Regions from separate parts of the Homo sapiens genome. Here region 2 is linked to region 1. Evidence: fine-mapped expression QTL. Tissue or cell type: transverse colon. Region 1 holds a variant in brackets; the other region holds the start of a gene. All regions are shown on one strand. Distances are from middle to middle.

What was found. PIP is the estimated chance that this variant, and not a neighbour inherited with it, causes the effect. A credible set is the group of variants that fine-mapping cannot tell apart.
Region 2: it holds the start of NLRP9, and the variant in region 1 is the best candidate, but not a certain one, in a credible set for the expression of NLRP9 in transverse colon (GTEx, PIP 0.57).

The regions. Positions count from the first base shown.
Region 1 is chr19:55,656,049-55,664,144 of GRCh38, forward strand. It overlaps U2AF2 (U2 small nuclear RNA auxiliary factor 2), which reads left to right. Exons shown (of 12, transcript NM_007279.3): 2 at 3,162-3,297; 3 at 4,129-4,173; 4 at 4,468-4,571; 5 at 4,990-5,141; 6 at 6,454-6,570; 7 at 7,558-7,696. Among named protein-coding and RNA genes, the nearest start is that of U2AF2, 5.1 kb to the left of the region's middle. The variant ACT/A (reference allele first, on the strand shown) is at 3,637.
Region 2 is chr19:55,734,660-55,742,767 of GRCh38, forward strand. NLRP9 (NLR family pyrin domain containing 9) reads right to left here and starts at 3,743. Exons shown (of 9, transcript NM_176820.4): 1 at 3,436-3,743. The coding sequence starts at 3,715. It also overlaps the pseudogene RN7SKP109.

The DNA.
Region 1 (8,096 bases):
AAGGTGGGAGGCAGGTTCCCTTCAGGGTATCGAAAATTGTGATGGGTTAGAACAAAAAGCCTGGGGCCCTGATCTTAGGGATTCCAATAATATTAGAAGTGGGAGAGTTGTTAAGACGCTTTAAAAATCCTCCGTGTTTCAGTTTGTGAAGAAATACAGGACCAGGGAAGATTGGAGACTTGTTTCTTTTCAGGCTTCAGCTGCCCATGTTCCTAGCTCGTTCGGAGGACGAAATGAGGGCTGAGGAATTTTCCTTTGAACCCGGGCTAGAGTTGGGTAGGGGCTGTATTAGGAAACAGTGTCCTGGGGAAGCAATAACGTTTACTGAGGGTCTGACTCTGTCTTAGTTGATGGACTGCTCAAGAGCATAGGCTTTGGAGTTGAGCACATCAGGAAGTTTAGATACCTGCTTTGTCGTTTAGTAACTGCTTTTAATACGTTTATATATTTTTTTCCATTTGTAGACTGATTATTATTTTCTTGTTACCGGATTTTGAGAAGATTAAAAAGGATGATAGTAACGATAGATGTAGTTAAACTCTGAGCGCTTACCGTGTGCCAGGCTCTTCGCTAAACTCTTAGCATGTTTTACTAAGTGGATCCTTTTAACAGCCTTGTGAGGCCAAAATGATTTCCACCTCTACTGGGGAGGAAACTGAGGGCTCAGAAAAGTTAAAAACTTTCTCAGGGCTCAGCTAGTCAGAGGCAGAGCTGAGATTAAATGGGGTAACATGTAAAGTGTGTGGCATGTGGCTTTGCGTACACTGGGTGTGCAGTAAGCGATATTTGCAATTGTAAAATTCCATGCTTAGAGAGGAGGGTCTTCCGCTCACAGAGATTGTGTCAGAGTTGGGAAAGGGCAGGAAAAGGTGCTTTCCAAATGTCATTCTGCCACACAACACCTGGATGGAGTAGATACGACCCTCGTTTAAAGAGAAAACCAAGTCTTAAAGGCTAAGTTGCTTTTGCATGGTTTTTGTTGTTCATAAGCAGAAAAGCAGGTACTGATTCTGAGCTCTGGCTGCAAGGCCAAGTTCCACTCTGCTGGACCAAGTGGAGCTGATTGGGCGGTTCTTTGAGGCTCTCAGATGGTGCTTCACCGGTTCTCCCGGGGTTTCCCTTTTGGTGCTGGTAGGGCAGTCCCTGAGACCTGGCACGGCTCCTGGGTTGGCGGAGCTGCTCCCATAAGATGACCACAATACAGTGTTTTGAGCAAACGAAGCTCTCATTGTTTTTACCTGTCCAGCATCAGTGTGTGGGAGAGGGTTCTTGCCATAGGGGAAGCTCTGCCCGCGTGTCACTGCCTGTAGTCTTTGTCTCTGCGGAGGACGGGCCAGCTTCTGTACGTGTCGCCTTCTGCTTCAGTCCTTTCCTCTGCTACCTGTATCTACAGGGAATTTCCTTGTCTATATCCCAGGCACCCAGCGGGCATCATTGCTTTCTCTGCGTGGGTTCCTGTCTGCCTGCTTGCCTGTTTCAGAGCCTTAGCAGCAGAAAGGGCTCTTGGGGCTCACAGCCTGTCCATCTTATAAGCGAGGAGCTGTGCCCAGTGCCGTGCCTGTGTGCCCGCTGCTCTACACTGCTGGCCTGTCCTGCCGATTGTTCCTCCCAATTTCAGTTTTTGATTTTGGGGTTTTTGGCCTTCAAGGGGACAATTATATTGTCATTAATGGTTCTAGCCAGACCTGAGTGTTCTGCCTGATCCACATTCGAGAGTATGGCCTCGTGCTTAACTCACTGATGTCAGAGTGTTTAAATTCTGGTGTCACCATTTCCTAGCTGTTTGACCTTGGTAATTGTGATCTCTCTATACCTTAGTTTCCTTACCCATTATGTCAGCCCCCAGCAGTGTTTTTCCGAAGCAGTAGTGAGGATTAAGAACAAACAAAACAATTTAGTACAGATTCCGGTTGTAGGAAGCATCTCAATATTTGTTGCTGTTTTTTTCCCTGCTGGGTGCATATTTTTCTGAGTGTTGGTGGTTTTGGAATTGTGATGCTTTTCCAGACATTCACATTGCATCGCAAAAACGTGAGACAAAACACTGTGGGTGAGGCTGAAGTTTAACATCCTCCCTCAGTGCCCTTTCCTCCTCTTGTCCCCAGGGATGATCACTCCAGGAGATGCGTGTTAACATATATAAGCACCTTAACGTGTGCATCTGTTTTGTGTGTGTGCTTCATGGCTAGCTGAGAAATCTGGGTGTCTTTGAATTAAGGAAATGGTGTGGCGGTGCTCATGAACCCCCCCGCCCCCCCATGCTCATGGTTTATCCTCCATCTTGAAGGGCCGGTCTCTCTTCAGGGGTTGAAGGGTCTGGTGAGAGCAGAGGTTTCTGTGGTTTTGCCAGTGAGGCTCCGTTCCTAGTGGCTACCTCAGGCAAATAGAGGGTTGAGGGAGCCTGCTGGAGGCTGGCAGAGATACCCGCCCCTACTCACGCCTTTACAGTCTCTTCAGTACTTGGCTTTGAAGGGAGTGAGGCTGAGAGATTCAAGTGGTTTGGGATTCAAGTCTGGATGGGGCAAGCTCCTCCCCTGACCTGCTGAAGGAGAGGAGGGCCTCTTTCCCCTTCAGTCTGCAGATTCTCCGAGGCCCTTCTCTTCCCCTGGGAAGGGTGCTTGCTTCTGCATTATTCACCGGCTTGGGAAGGGATGGGTTGAGTTTCCCTGCTTCCTGGGGATATCAGATCCTGCCTGGCACCTGACCCCTAGTCCTGATGGTGGGGCTGTGGGTGCCAGCTAGTTGCAGAGGTCTTTCCTGAGGGGTCGCTGGGTCCCTTCAGGAAAACATCATTGGGTCTCTTGATTCCCCAGCCTCTAGCCCTGCCCCTCTCAGGGACGACCCTGGGGTCAGGCCCCTCAGCCCTCGAGGGGGACCAGGAGCCAGCCTCCTCTGTCTTCTCTGGCTCCCCAGCTCCTCCTGAGCATCCTCAGGTATCTTACACCCCGGGGGCATTTCCAGGCCCCGTCCCCCTGGTCCCCTCATGGTCCCTGGACTCGCTTGTGGACCCAGGAGGCCTGTTAATTCCCTTCCTCCATTGAATCCCTTCCCTTTGGGGGTGGCCTCCCTGGGGCTTGGGACATAGCCACCAGCGCGCAGGGTGGGCTGGGCCCGCATCCTTACTCCGCTTATCCCGTGCCCCTCCTCTCACCCTTGCCCAGAGCGGGACAAGGAGAACCGGCATCGGAAGCGCAGCCACAGCCGCTCTCGGAGCCGGGACCGCAAACGCCGGAGCCGGAGCCGCGACCGGCGCAACCGGGACCAGCGGAGCGCCTCCCGGGACAGGCGACGACGCAGGTACTAGGGCTCAGGGATCCCCTGGGCCAGCCTGGGAGTCGGGGGGTCGGTGTTGGCCGGCCTGTGGGTGGCCTGTGTGTGTCTGTGTCTGGGTCCGGGCCCTGTGTGGCTCGTTCGTTCTTTGTGTGGATCTGGGGGAGGGATCTACTGCTTGGTCTGTCTTGGATTCCGATTTTTTCCCCCGTTTCTGGGGTTTCTTTCATTTTCTGTCTTGGTGGTTGCTGGTGGGTTGCTGGGGGCAATAGGCTCTTTATCTGGAGCCTGGGAATTGATTCTGTGTTTTCCTTCACAAGGGGTTGTTCTCTGTCTCTGACTCTGAGGGCCTGTTCCTTCTTTTCG[ACT/A]CTCTGTGGCTCTCTGTGGGACTCTCTTCGAGGGGGTTGGTCTCTGCCTCCAGTTTCTTTCTTCCCTGCCTCCCAGGAGAAGGGAGCTCTTGGGACCGAGGCAGTATCCACAGCCTGGGCTGACTTTTTGGCCCAGGGGTGTCGGTTTCCACCGCCTCTTCCCTTCTAGGCTCCCCTTTCTGTTCTCTGCCTCCTTAGGTGAGGAAGGGCAGGATAGGCGGAAGTCCTCCTGCCTCCTCCCGGCTCAGTTTCTCCAGCTAGAGACTGGTCCTTCCTGGCCCCTGGCCCCTTTCTCCTTTCCTCACTTCCTCTTTCCTGGGGGTGGGAGTGTTTGGGGGGAAATGGCAGGGCCGAGGGTGGCCTGCTTGCTGCTTGTTGACCTCGGCCCTGCTCCCACCCTGGGGCTCAGTGCCCTTGGGGGGGTGTGGCATGTGGGGAAGACGAGGGTCCCCAGTCACCCCTCCCCATACCTTTCCCTCCCACCCCCCAGCAAACCTTTGACCAGAGGCGCTAAAGAGGAGCACGGTGGACTGATGTGAGCTTCTCTTCCTGCCCCTTCCTCCCTGATGTCCACTCCCTTCACCTTCCTCACGCCCGTGCACCCTGTCCCGCCCATTTCCAGCCCTGGCCCAAGCACTGGGAAGAGTCCACTTACCTTGAAACCAGCACCCCTTTCCCAGGCCCTGCCCCAGACCCTCTCCTTCCCTGGAGAGAGTGGAGCTTACATGGTTGCGGGGAGGGTGAAAGGGTGCCTGGGAGGGGGCTCGCAGGCCCACTGTTGGTCAGACTGAGGTTGCCCTGCCCCGCTCTCCCCTCCCACCTCCCCCAGTCGTTCCCCCCGCCACGAGAAGAAGAAGAAGGTCCGTAAATACTGGGACGTGCCACCCCCAGGCTTTGAGCACATCACCCCAATGCAGTACAAGGCCATGCAAGGTAGGCCCCTGGCCAGGCTGCTCCCAGAGCGGGAGGGTACAGGGGTTGGGATTCTCCGTCAGTCATTCCCCTGCGTGTGTGCTTGGAGGGGGTCAAAGACACAGGTAGAGGGTTGCACACCCCTGGGGGTTCTGGTCTCTGCGCTTTTGAAGCCTCCCTAGAGGAGGAAATGACCAGAGACACCCGTGGTTGACAGGGGAATGAGGCCTCCATCTGGACGCCATTAGGAAGTGAGGCTTCTGAGGAGCAGCAGTTACTGGGTGGGGGCCCCGAGGGTGGAAAGAGGGTTCTGGAAGGTGCTAAGACCGAGAGCCTGTAGGAGCTTTCTGCTGAGGAGGGGAACTCCCAGTGTGTGGTGAGGGGTGGTCACTGAGCATTCCCCTGATGGGGTTTTATCCGGCTTTTATTCCCTTTGAAGCTGCGGGTCAGATTCCAGCCACTGCTCTTCTCCCCACCATGACCCCTGACGGTCTGGCTGTGACCCCAACGCCGGTGCCCGTGGTCGGGAGCCAGATGACCAGACAAGCCCGGCGCCTCTACGTGGGCAACATCCCCTTTGGCATCACTGAGGTACTGCCCTCCCCTGCCCCCTACCCTCTCCCTTGTCCCTCTACCCCGTTCCTCCCCTTCCCTCCATTCCCTTTCCCCAACCTGCACGGGTCAGACTCTGCTCCTGCAAGACCCCCCGGCCCCCTCCCAGACGGACCGATGGAGTTGAGCCAGCCAGGGGCCGGGCTGGGGGTGGCCCTCCCTCCCTCCTCTTCCCCTCTCCCGTCTCCCCTCCCCCCAACCTCCTCCAGCAACCCAGGGATCAAGCACACACATAATGTACCCACGTGTTGTACCTACGTGTCGGAGAGAGACAGAGAGGGAGACTTGGACACACACACACACACACACACACACACACACACACACACACAGACGCACGCTGCCCCTCAGTTTTTTTCTGACACGCCTCTCGTTCTCTGCCGCCTGTCCCCTATCCTCTCCCCCACGTCCCTCCCATGGTCGCTGTTCTTTTATTTTTGATCGCCCCTGACCTCCCCCTTCCCCACCACTCCTTTTCCCTCTCCCCTCTCCCCAACCCCTTCCTGTGGCACCCCCTGAGAATCCCGAGATCAAAGAGTTGTTTCCATTTCTCTTTAAAGTGAAATATTGTGGGGCTGAGATCCCTCGTAGCAACAAAAAGTTTGCTACCATCGTCGAAGGCAAGTAAGGTCCATTCTGACTTTCTCAACCTGCACTTTGCTACATTTGATAAACCAGCCCCCGGACTCCAGGGCCAGATTCCTCCACATCACTCTTTTCTCCTCCCCTCCCGTCCCTGCCCCTCCTCCCTACACTCCTCCTCTCCTGCCCCTGCACTCTTGACTTCCTCCTCCTCGCTCGTCTCTGTCCTGCTCTCCCTTTCTGTCCTTTGCTCGTCTCTGCCCCTGCCTGCCACTTCCTTTCTACTTTCCTGCCACTTTTCTGTCTGTCTCCACTGGGTGGCCCTTCCTGTGTGCTCTGTCTCTTCATCTCTTGTGTTTCGTGTTTTTCTTCATTTTGTGTTGTCATCATGCCCTCTGCCTTTTCTTGAACAATCTTCTCCTTTCCCCTGATTTTTTGGGGCCCCTGTGGCTGTCCCCCAACGCCTGTCCATCGCCTGCCCTTGGCCGTCTCTTGCTACTGCTTCCTCCCCATTTTCTCTCTTGCTTCTGTTCTTACTATTGACTTCTACACCCCCACCCATATTCCACTGTTCCTTCCCCCCCTCCTCCCTCCCCTCATCCCTCTCCCCTTACCCCCAAACCCCTCTGTGTCTCCCTCTCTCACCCTTCCCCTCCTCTCTCCACCTCCCTTCCCCCGCCCCCCCCCTTGTCTCCTATTCCCTCTGCAGGAGGCCATGATGGATTTCTTCAACGCCCAGATGCGCCTGGGGGGGCTGACCCAGGCCCCTGGCAACCCAGTGTTGGCTGTGCAGATTAACCAGGACAAGAATTTTGCCTTTTTGGAGGTGAGCTGGGGGAGTGAGTGAGGTCCAGGAAACGTGTGTGATGTGAGGGCCCAGCCCTTAGGCTGATGTTGTGTGGAGCTGCCTTGTGCTGTTTCCACCAGGCCCTCTGCAGCCTCTTCTCCACCCGGTCGCTGAAGTGAGCCCTGTTATAGCATTACAGATCTGATCCTACTTTCTGCCTTCCATTTGCTTTCTGTGTGACCTGAGAGGCCTGTTTGGCCTCTGTAGACCTCTTTGGCCTTTTCCAGACCATTCCGGCCCAGTCCTCTCTGCACTCTGGCCACACTGACCTTCCCAGAACCTACCATGCTCCTGCCTGCTTGGCTAGAGTTCTTTACACCAGCTAACTGATGTTCCTAACTAGTCTTCTGTTACCCCAGCTAACTGATGTTCCTAACTAGTCTTCTGTGTCTGTGTTTCTCAACTGTCGGGAAAAGGCCTTGGTTTTTGATTTTCGACTCTTGGTGGACTGATAACTCTCATGAAGTATTGTGAAGGTGTGGGCAGTGTTAGCTTACTGCAGAGATTTCTGAGCACTCCCTCTCACTGTCTGAGCACTCCCTCTCACTCTGTCCCTCTCACTCTGTCTTTGCCTCACTGCAGTCCACTTGCAGTTGCATTGCTCCGGAGATGGGCTGAAATGTCCCCCTCACCAGAAAGACTCCAGTACTGTCATCTCCCCGTTCAACTAACCTTTCCCGTAACATCCCTTTTCAGCACTTTGTCCCTCTTCCGTGTCATCACAGCCTGCAATTGTGTGTTTGCCTCTGTGTTTGTGTTGGGTGCCTGGTGTTTTTAATGGTCGAGTGTGAGCTCCTGGCAGCAGGGACATGCGTGTCTGTTGTACTCCCAGTGCCCAGCCTGGGGCCTGGCATGTTGTATTTGTTCACATGAGTGAAAGGAAAGAGGAAATCCCAATCCTGGAACACTAGGGGCTGTACTAGTCCCTGACCCCCATCCCTCACCACTCCTTTCTCTTTCATTCAGTTCCGCTCAGTGGACGAGACTACCCAGGCTATGGCCTTTGATGGCATCATCTTCCAGGGCCAGTCACTAAAGATCCGCAGGCCTCACGACTACCAGCCGCTTCCTGGCATGTCAGAGAACCCCTCCGTCTATGTGCCTGGTGAGTGGGGGATCCATTAAGGGCCCCTTTCTCCCCCAGTCCTGTTCCCATGGCCTGTCCATCCCTTCAGCCCAGCTGGAGTGGCTTAGGAAGTTGTGTAAGTACTGTGGAAGATAGGTGCCTTTTCCCTGCTTCCCCTAAGTCTCTGTGAGTGGGGTGCTCTCCTGCTGGTAGAGAAGGTGCCTAGGGCCGGGAGAATGAGCTGTCACCTGCTGAGGACACACAGCTTGTACGTGGCAGAGCCAGGATCAGACCAAAGGTGCTGGGGAAGCGAGGGGCTTGTGGCCTGGACCTCGTGCCTGCGTTGCGGCTGTGGGACCTTGGAGGGCTCAGTCTGTGCCCGTCGGGGCTGCTGTGTGTCGACGGTTGGCAGCAAAGCTGCTGCTGTGGGGTCTGGCAC
Region 2 (8,108 bases), 79 kb after region 1:
CTCTCGCTCTTGTCCCCCAGGCTGGAGTGAGATGGCGCTATCTCAGCTCACTGCAACCTCCGCCTCCTGGGTTCAAGCGATTCTTCTGCCTCAGCCTCCCAAGTAGCTGGGATTACAGGCACCTGCCACCACGCCCAGCTAATTTTTGTATTTTTCGTAGATACAGGGTCTCACCATGTTGGTCAGGCTGGTCTTGAACTCTTGACCTCAGGTGATCTGCCCTCCTCGGCCTCCCAAAGTGCTGGGATTACAGGCGTAAGCCACCATGCCCAGCCACAAAATATATATTTTATGCAAAGTTTATCTAATGAGTGATGAGAAATGGGGAAGGGAGAAGAATTAAAATCCTGTTCATAATCTGAGTTTTCAAATTTCAGAAAAATTTTGAGTCTTGGGAAGGGACTGGACGGAAGGAGATTGCAAAGGGGCCCTACAGTCGCTCACAGGAAGGCAGGGACGGTTCCACCGATGGTCTGTGCTCTCCTTGCACACTCGTCTGTGGACATCACAGGAGGGAACAGCATCCACTTTATTCTCCGCTATATCCCTTTAACACCGTCGCACAGGAGTTATTCAAGTCTCTGAGCAGTGACTGACTTTGTATAAAATTAATATTGTAAAACTGTCTTGAATTTAAAACATACATGCTAGGCACGGTGGCTCACGCCGGTAATCCCAGCGCTTTGGGAGTGCTGAGGCAGGAGGAGCACTTGAGGCCAGGAGTTCAAGACGAGCTTGGCCAACATAGTGAGACTCCATCTCTATTAAAAAATTAAATTAAAAAATATGCAGATAAAGAGAAAGGAAATAAGGCCATTCCAAAATGTCATCAATGTATGTAATCATGGCTCATAGCTTGATCTGTGTCTGTATTACTCTACATTTTTCTTCTGCCCGATTTTTCTCTCTACAGTAGAATTATACTGTATATACTATTTTCAAACATGGTTTTTGACTGAACAATATATTATGGACATCTTTCTAAATTCATGCACATTTTTCATCACAAAACACTATGCTATTTATTAAAAAATTTTTTTTTTTAGACAGAGTCTCATCACTCTGTGGCCCAGGCTAAAGTGCAGTGGTGTGATTGTGGCTCACTGCAACTTCCACCTCCCGGGTTCTAGTGATTCTCGTGCCTCAGCCTCCCGAGTAGCTGGGATTACAGGCGTGCACCACCACGCCTGGGTAATTTTTGTATTTTTAGTAGATAGAGTGTCTCACCATGTTGGCCAGGCTGGTCTCGAACTCCTGACCTTAGGTGATCCGCCCACCTCAGCCTCCCAAAGTGCTGGGATTACGGGTGTGAGCCACCACGCCTGGCAAAACCCTATGCTATTTAATTGAATGGATTTATCATTATATTATTCACTTTCTATATTTGCCCATAGTAAACATTTGCTGACCTCCAAGGTTTTTTTTTGAGACAAAATTCATAAGCAAGGTTATTTAAAACTGATGATTCACGCCTGTAATCCCAGCACTTTGGGAGGCTGAGGTGGGTGGATCATGAGGTCAGGAGATCGAGACCATCCTGGCTAACACGGTGAGACCCCATCTCTACTAAAAATACAAAAAATTATCTGGGCGTGGTGGCAGGCGCCTGTAGTCCCAGCTACCTGGGAGGCTGAGGCAGGAGAATGGTGGGAACCCGGGAGGCAGAGCTTGCAGTGAGCTGAGATCGCGCCACTGCACTCCAGCCTGGGCGACAGAGCGAGACTCCGTCTCAAAAAAGAAAAAAGTCATGTCATGTCTTAGAGATTTTTATAACATTTAGGACCTCAGTGTCCCAAGTGAGAAACTCTCAGTTCAGACACTGACTCGGTCATTTTTTCATCTGCCAACATAGAACATTAATCAGCAGAAAAGTCAAAGACACGAACCACACAGATAAAGAAAACTGGCACACACCTGTAATCACAGCACTTTGGGAAGCCCAGGCAGGAGGATCATCTGAGGTCAGGAGTTTGAGACCAGCCTGACCAACATGGTGATACCCCGTCTCTACTAAAAATACAAAAATTAGCTGGGCGTGGTGGTGCATGCCTGTAATCCCAGCTACTCGGGAAGCTGAGGAAGGAGAATCGCTTGAACCTGGGAGGCAGAAGTTGCAGTGAACCGAGATCATGTCACTGCCCTCCAACCTGGGCAACAGAGCAAGACTCCGTCTCAAAAAAATAAAACAAAAACAAAAAAAAAAACAAAAAACTAACACAGCAAGCAACTCCAAACCAAATAAAATACCCTCAAGCATGTGGGGATACGAAATAAGGTCTCAAATTAGAATTACCAACACAAAGAAGAAACATGAACAAAACAGAAGTAAACGTAACAGAAGTTGATGGAACTCAAAAGTAAAGGGAGAAGATAACAATCATCAGAAACAAATGCTAATTACTAGATACCTAATAGGGAATATATTTAGTTTTTCCTAAGTATCCCCCGAGAGGAGGGTGTAGACCCCATCAATGAGTCCAGCAGAACTGGTTCGGAGTCAGATCTGTCACTTTTGGAAAAGTCATGTAACACATGGGAACACTGTTTTGTCCAGTTTTCTCACTTGTAAACCTTTCCTGGGTTGTGATAAGAATGAAAAGACATTATGCAGAAAGAATGCTTCCAGGACGTGAGGACAACCTGGCTGTGATGTCTGTCACCCCATTGGTCGCCCCAGGGCTAATTCGGCTGATGTGGCCAGCTGGGTGGGTGTCCACTTCCTCCCTCACTGCTCCATATGCGTCCGTCCTGAAAGTCTCCCCTGGGTCAAAGACGATGACAACCTTTGCCCATAGAGGAAGGTCCTTCCATCGCGGGCAGAAGAGAAGCTGTGCTCCCCTACTAGAACCTCCAAACAAGCTCGCAAGAATGCTTCCTGTAGTACCCGGGACATACGCTGTCTGATTGTCTTAAGATTCTACCTACTCCTTGGTACATGTCTGGTCAAAAAGGACAGGCAGTTAGGCATGGTGGCTCACTCCTGTAATCACAGCACTTTGGGATGCCTAGGCAGGTGGATCACTTGAGCCTGGGAGTTCAAGACCAGCCTGAGCAACATGGCAAGACCCTTTCTCTAAAAAAAAAAAAAAAAAAAAAAAAAAGATAGGCAACTACCATACTAGAATTCCATCTCAGTAGACCTGGCAATGCAGACACTAACTGGCCACTCATCTCCTATAACAACGACTCCACTTGGGGTGGAAAAATGGGAAGACACTCCATAGGTGAACAGTTGGTATCAGGACGCCATCTGTCCCCAGTTCATCGCTGGCCCACATATGAACAGCCCTGGCCTGCAACTCTTCCTACCTTCAACTCTCACCTTGACCCACACACATTCTCATCTGATGGAGGGGGTGGCCACTCATTTAACAATGCTATCACCTTGTTCCCAGGCTTCCCCCATGGGTCCTCGCCCCATCATCCAGCACTTACTTCTCATCTCTTCCTGAGCCTTTGTCCAGAGATCTTTCCTATTGATCTGTAGAAACAGGTTCAGTGTTACCTCCCATGCCTGCTTTCCTGGGTAATGTTTGTCCAGCAGCTTTGCTACATCTTCTTTGGAGGCCTTCTTCAGCTCAGCCCAGGGGATTGGCTTGAGTTCAAATTTCTCCAAAGGTTGTTTGAGGAGCTCCTTAAATTTCCAAAACTCTTCCTTTCTGAGCTCCTTCAGATACCACAACAAGCCAAAATCCGAAAAAAAAGATTCTGCCATATCGCCCCAGGATTGTGAACTGAGGTGTCTCCAGAGGGAAAAGAAAGATCCTCAAAAATAAAGAATAAATGATACCTGGAGAAGAATGACATGATTACAGAGTTAAGCTTCAGCAGCTGAAAGCAGCTCAAAATTATTGATATCATCATGCGTAGCTTGCACCAAACATCATCTAGGGAAGAAGCTTCATCTTTTTCCAAACAAATGCATGTGAATGGTAGAGTTGACTGCCACTTATGTGTCTTGTTTTTGTCTGACATAAATGATGCTTCCAGGAACAAGTGTTTTTGTGTAGTTTGGTGTATATAAGCACACATTTCTCTAGATTTATAAATTATAGGTCAAACAGCAAACACAGGTCACCATGTTTGCTACATAACACTCAACGGTTTTCCCTTGTGTATATAATTACTGACATTCCTACCAGCATTCTATGAGTTTGTTTGCTCTGTAGACCTTCCCATCCTTAGTATAGTCTAATCCAATTTTGATAATGAAAAAATGAACGGATATTAAAATTACAGATGATCACATTCAGGAAGATGAAAATAAAGGAAGAGGACATAAAAGCAAATTTAAATTTTTTTTTATCGTTTAGTGGTATATGCCTTCTTTTTTTTTTTTTTTTTTGAGACAGAGTCTCGCTCTGATGCCCAGGCTGGAGTGCAGTAGCGCAATCTCGGCTCACTGCAAGCTCTGCCTCCCGGGTTCACGTCATTCTCCTGCCTCAGCCTCCTGAGTAGCTGGGACTACAGGTGCCTGCCACCACACCCGGCTAATTTTTTTGTATTTTTAGTAGAGATGGGGTTTTACTGTGTTCGCCAGGATGGTCTCGATCTCCTGACCTCGTGATCCACCCGCCTCGGCCTCCCAAAGTGCTGGGATTACAGGCATGAGCCACCGTGCCCGGCCGGTATATGCCTTCTTATTACAGTATATAAGGAAAAAGTTAGATTTACTATAGGTTAGCATCTGCAGACAACTCAGACAGAAACAGAGCAGTGAACGTTCCCAGTATTATAAACCCTTCAGATAATCATTGCAATTCAACAAAAGACAGGAAATGAAGTAGAAATATATGGTAGACAAAATAAGACAGGTGGCAAAAATAATACCAAATATATATAGATATGTATTTTGAGATAGAGTTTCACTCTTGTTGCCCAGACTAGAATGCAATGGTATGACCTCAGCTCACTGCAACCTCTGCCTCCCAGGTTCAAATGATTCTCCTGCCTCGTCCTCCCAAGTAGCTGGGATTACAGGCACCTGCCACCATGCCCGGCTAATTTTTTTTTTTTGTATTTTTAGTAGAGATGGGGTTTCACCATGTTGGCCAGGCTGGTCTCGAACTCCTGACCTCAGGTGATCCACCTGCCTCAGCCTCCCAAAGTGCTGGGATTATAGGCTTGAGCCACTGCGCCCAGCCTAAATATAATCTTAACACATATGAATGAAATAAAATTGCTCACTAATATATAGACTCACATTGGATAAATACAAATCCTGCTATATGCTGTTTATAAGAGAATCCTAGAAAATACACAGAGAAGTAAAACAGAAGAAGAAAAAGCCTGGCAAATTCTTACCCAAAAAAGTATTAATAGTATAAAATATCAGCATTGAAAAACACTCAAGCTAGAAAGCACTAAATGGACTAAGAATTTTTGAACACCAAGATTCAGTTCCCCAAGATCTAGAACTCATGAGCATATGTGCACCTGGGAATACCACTTTACACATAAGGAGATGATGACAAACGCAATATCATTGTATCTGAGCTAATATACCTTTCAGATAATTACAAACCATTAGCAAAGGTTACATACCATCTATGGTCACATGCAAAAGAATAAACTTGGACCCTTAATACCATAAACAAAAATTAATGCAAAATGGATTGAAGAAGATCTAAATGGAAGGCCCAAAGTATAAAACTCCTAGGAGAAAATGTAGGGCAGAAGCTTCCAGACACAGATTTGGTCTGGATTATTTCTTGAATATGACATGACACAGACAAAAGAAAAAAATAGACAAACTGGACTTTATAAAAATTTTAAAATTTTGTGCATCAAAAGACAGTATCAGCCAGGTGCGGTGGTTCATGCCTGTAATCCCAGCACTTTGGGAGGCCGCAGCAGGTGGATCACTTGAGGCCAGGAGTTTGAGACCCATGGCCCACATGGTGAAACCCTGTCCCTACTAAAAATACAAAAATTAGCCAGGCGTGGTGGCAGACACCTGTAATCCCAGCTGCTCGGGAGGCGGAGGCTGCAGCAAGCTGAGATCACACCGCTACACTCCAGCCTGGGTGACAGAGCGAGACTCTGTCTCAAAAACAAAGACGATATCAAAAGAGTAAAAAGTCAACCAACAGAATGGGAGAAAATATTTGCAAAGCATGTATCTCACAGGGATTAAAATCCAGATTACAGGGAATGCCTAAAACTCAATAACAAAACAATCTTATAACAATGAGAAAAGGACTAGAATAGACATTTCTCCAAAGATATACAAATGGTCCATAGCCAATAAGCACATAAAAAGAGGCTCAACGTCACTAACCATTAGGGAAATACAGATCACAACTACAATGAGATAATCCTTCACATCCACTAAGATGGTAACTACAAAAAAAAAAAAATTCAAAACAAGTGTTGATGAGAAGGTAGAGAAACTGGAACCCTTGTATCCTAGTGACGTATAAATGTTAAATGGTTCAGCCACTGTGGAAAACTGTATCATATTTCCTGAAAAAATAAGAACAGAATTACTGTAGGATCCAGCAACCCCAAAGAATTGAAAGCAGACTCTCTCAGAGTTATCCGGACACTCATGTTAATAGGAGCATCAGTGACCCAAGTGTTCATCAACAGATGAATGGAAAAGTGAAATGCAGTCTATAAATACAGTATTATACAGCCTTAAAAAGGAAGGATGCTGGGCCCGGTGGCTCCTGCCTGTAACCCCAGCACTTTGGGAGGCTGAGGCGGTTGGATCACCTGAGGTCAGGAGTTCGAGACCAGCATGGTCAACATGGTGAAACCCCGTCTCTACTAAAAATACAAAAAAAAAATTAGCCAGGTGTGGTGGCAGGTGCCTGTAATCCCAGCTAACTCAGGAGGCTGAGGCAGGAGAATCGCTTGAACCTGGGAGTCGGAGGTTGTAGTGAGCAAAGATTGCGTCACTGAACTCCACTCTGGGCGACAGAGCGAGACTCTGTCTCAAAAAAAAAAAAAAAGGAAGGAGTTTTTTTTTTTTTTTTTTTTTTTTTGAGAAGGAGTCTCACTCTGTCCCCAGGCTGGAGTGCAGTGGTGCGATCTCGGCTCACTGCAAGCTCCGCCTCCCGGGTTCACACCATTCTTCTGCCTCAGCCTCCGGAGTAGCTGGGACTACAGGCGCCGGCCACCACGCCCGGCTAATTTTTTGAATTTTTAGTAGAGATGGGGTTTCACTGTGTTAGCCAGGATGGTCTCGATCTCCTGACCTCGTGATCCGCCCGCCTCAGCCTCCCAAAGTGCTGGGATTACAGGCGTGAGCCACAGCGCCCGGCCTAGGAAGGAGATTCTGACATATGCTGTGACATGAATGAACCTTGAGGACATTATGCCAAGTGATAGAAACCAGTCACAAAATGACAAATACTGTTCCATTAAACGTATATGAGGTACTTAAAGTGGTCAGAATCATAGAGACAAAGTAGAATGATGGTTGCCGAGGCTGAAGAAGAAAATGGAGAGCTATTGTTTAATGAGGACAGTTTCAGTTTTACAAGATAAACAGTTATGGAGATGGATGTGACGATGCTTGTACAACATTATAAGTGTATTTAGTACCACTGAATTATACACTTAAAATGGTTAAGACGGTAAGTTTTGTATTATGTGTATTTTACCACAATAAATTTCTTGAGACAAGGTCTTGCTCTGTGCCCAGGCTGAGTGCAGTGGCTCAATCACAGCTCCCTGCAGCCTCGACCGGCCCCCCACCCACACCCACCGGGGCTCAAGGACCTCCTCAGCCTCCCCACCTCCGCCTCCCAAGTAGCTGGGGCTAGAGGCACACACCACCAGGCCCAGCTAATTTTTTTAGATTTTTGTAGACATGATGTCTCACTATGTTGCCCAGGCTGGTCTCAAACTCCTGGTCTCAAGTAATCCTCCCACCTCGGCCTTCCAAAGTGCTGAGATTATAGGCAAGAGCCACCACACCCAGCAAAAAAAAAAAAAAAAAAAAATTAGTAATATGCTATTGAGGTAATGCACAAGTTTGTGACATATGTATGTGAAATATATGTATACATTTTTTAAAGGGAAAGTGGTTTGATTCCAAATCAAATATGTACATTTCATTCAAACGCATATGGGACATTTACTAAACATGACCTTATCTT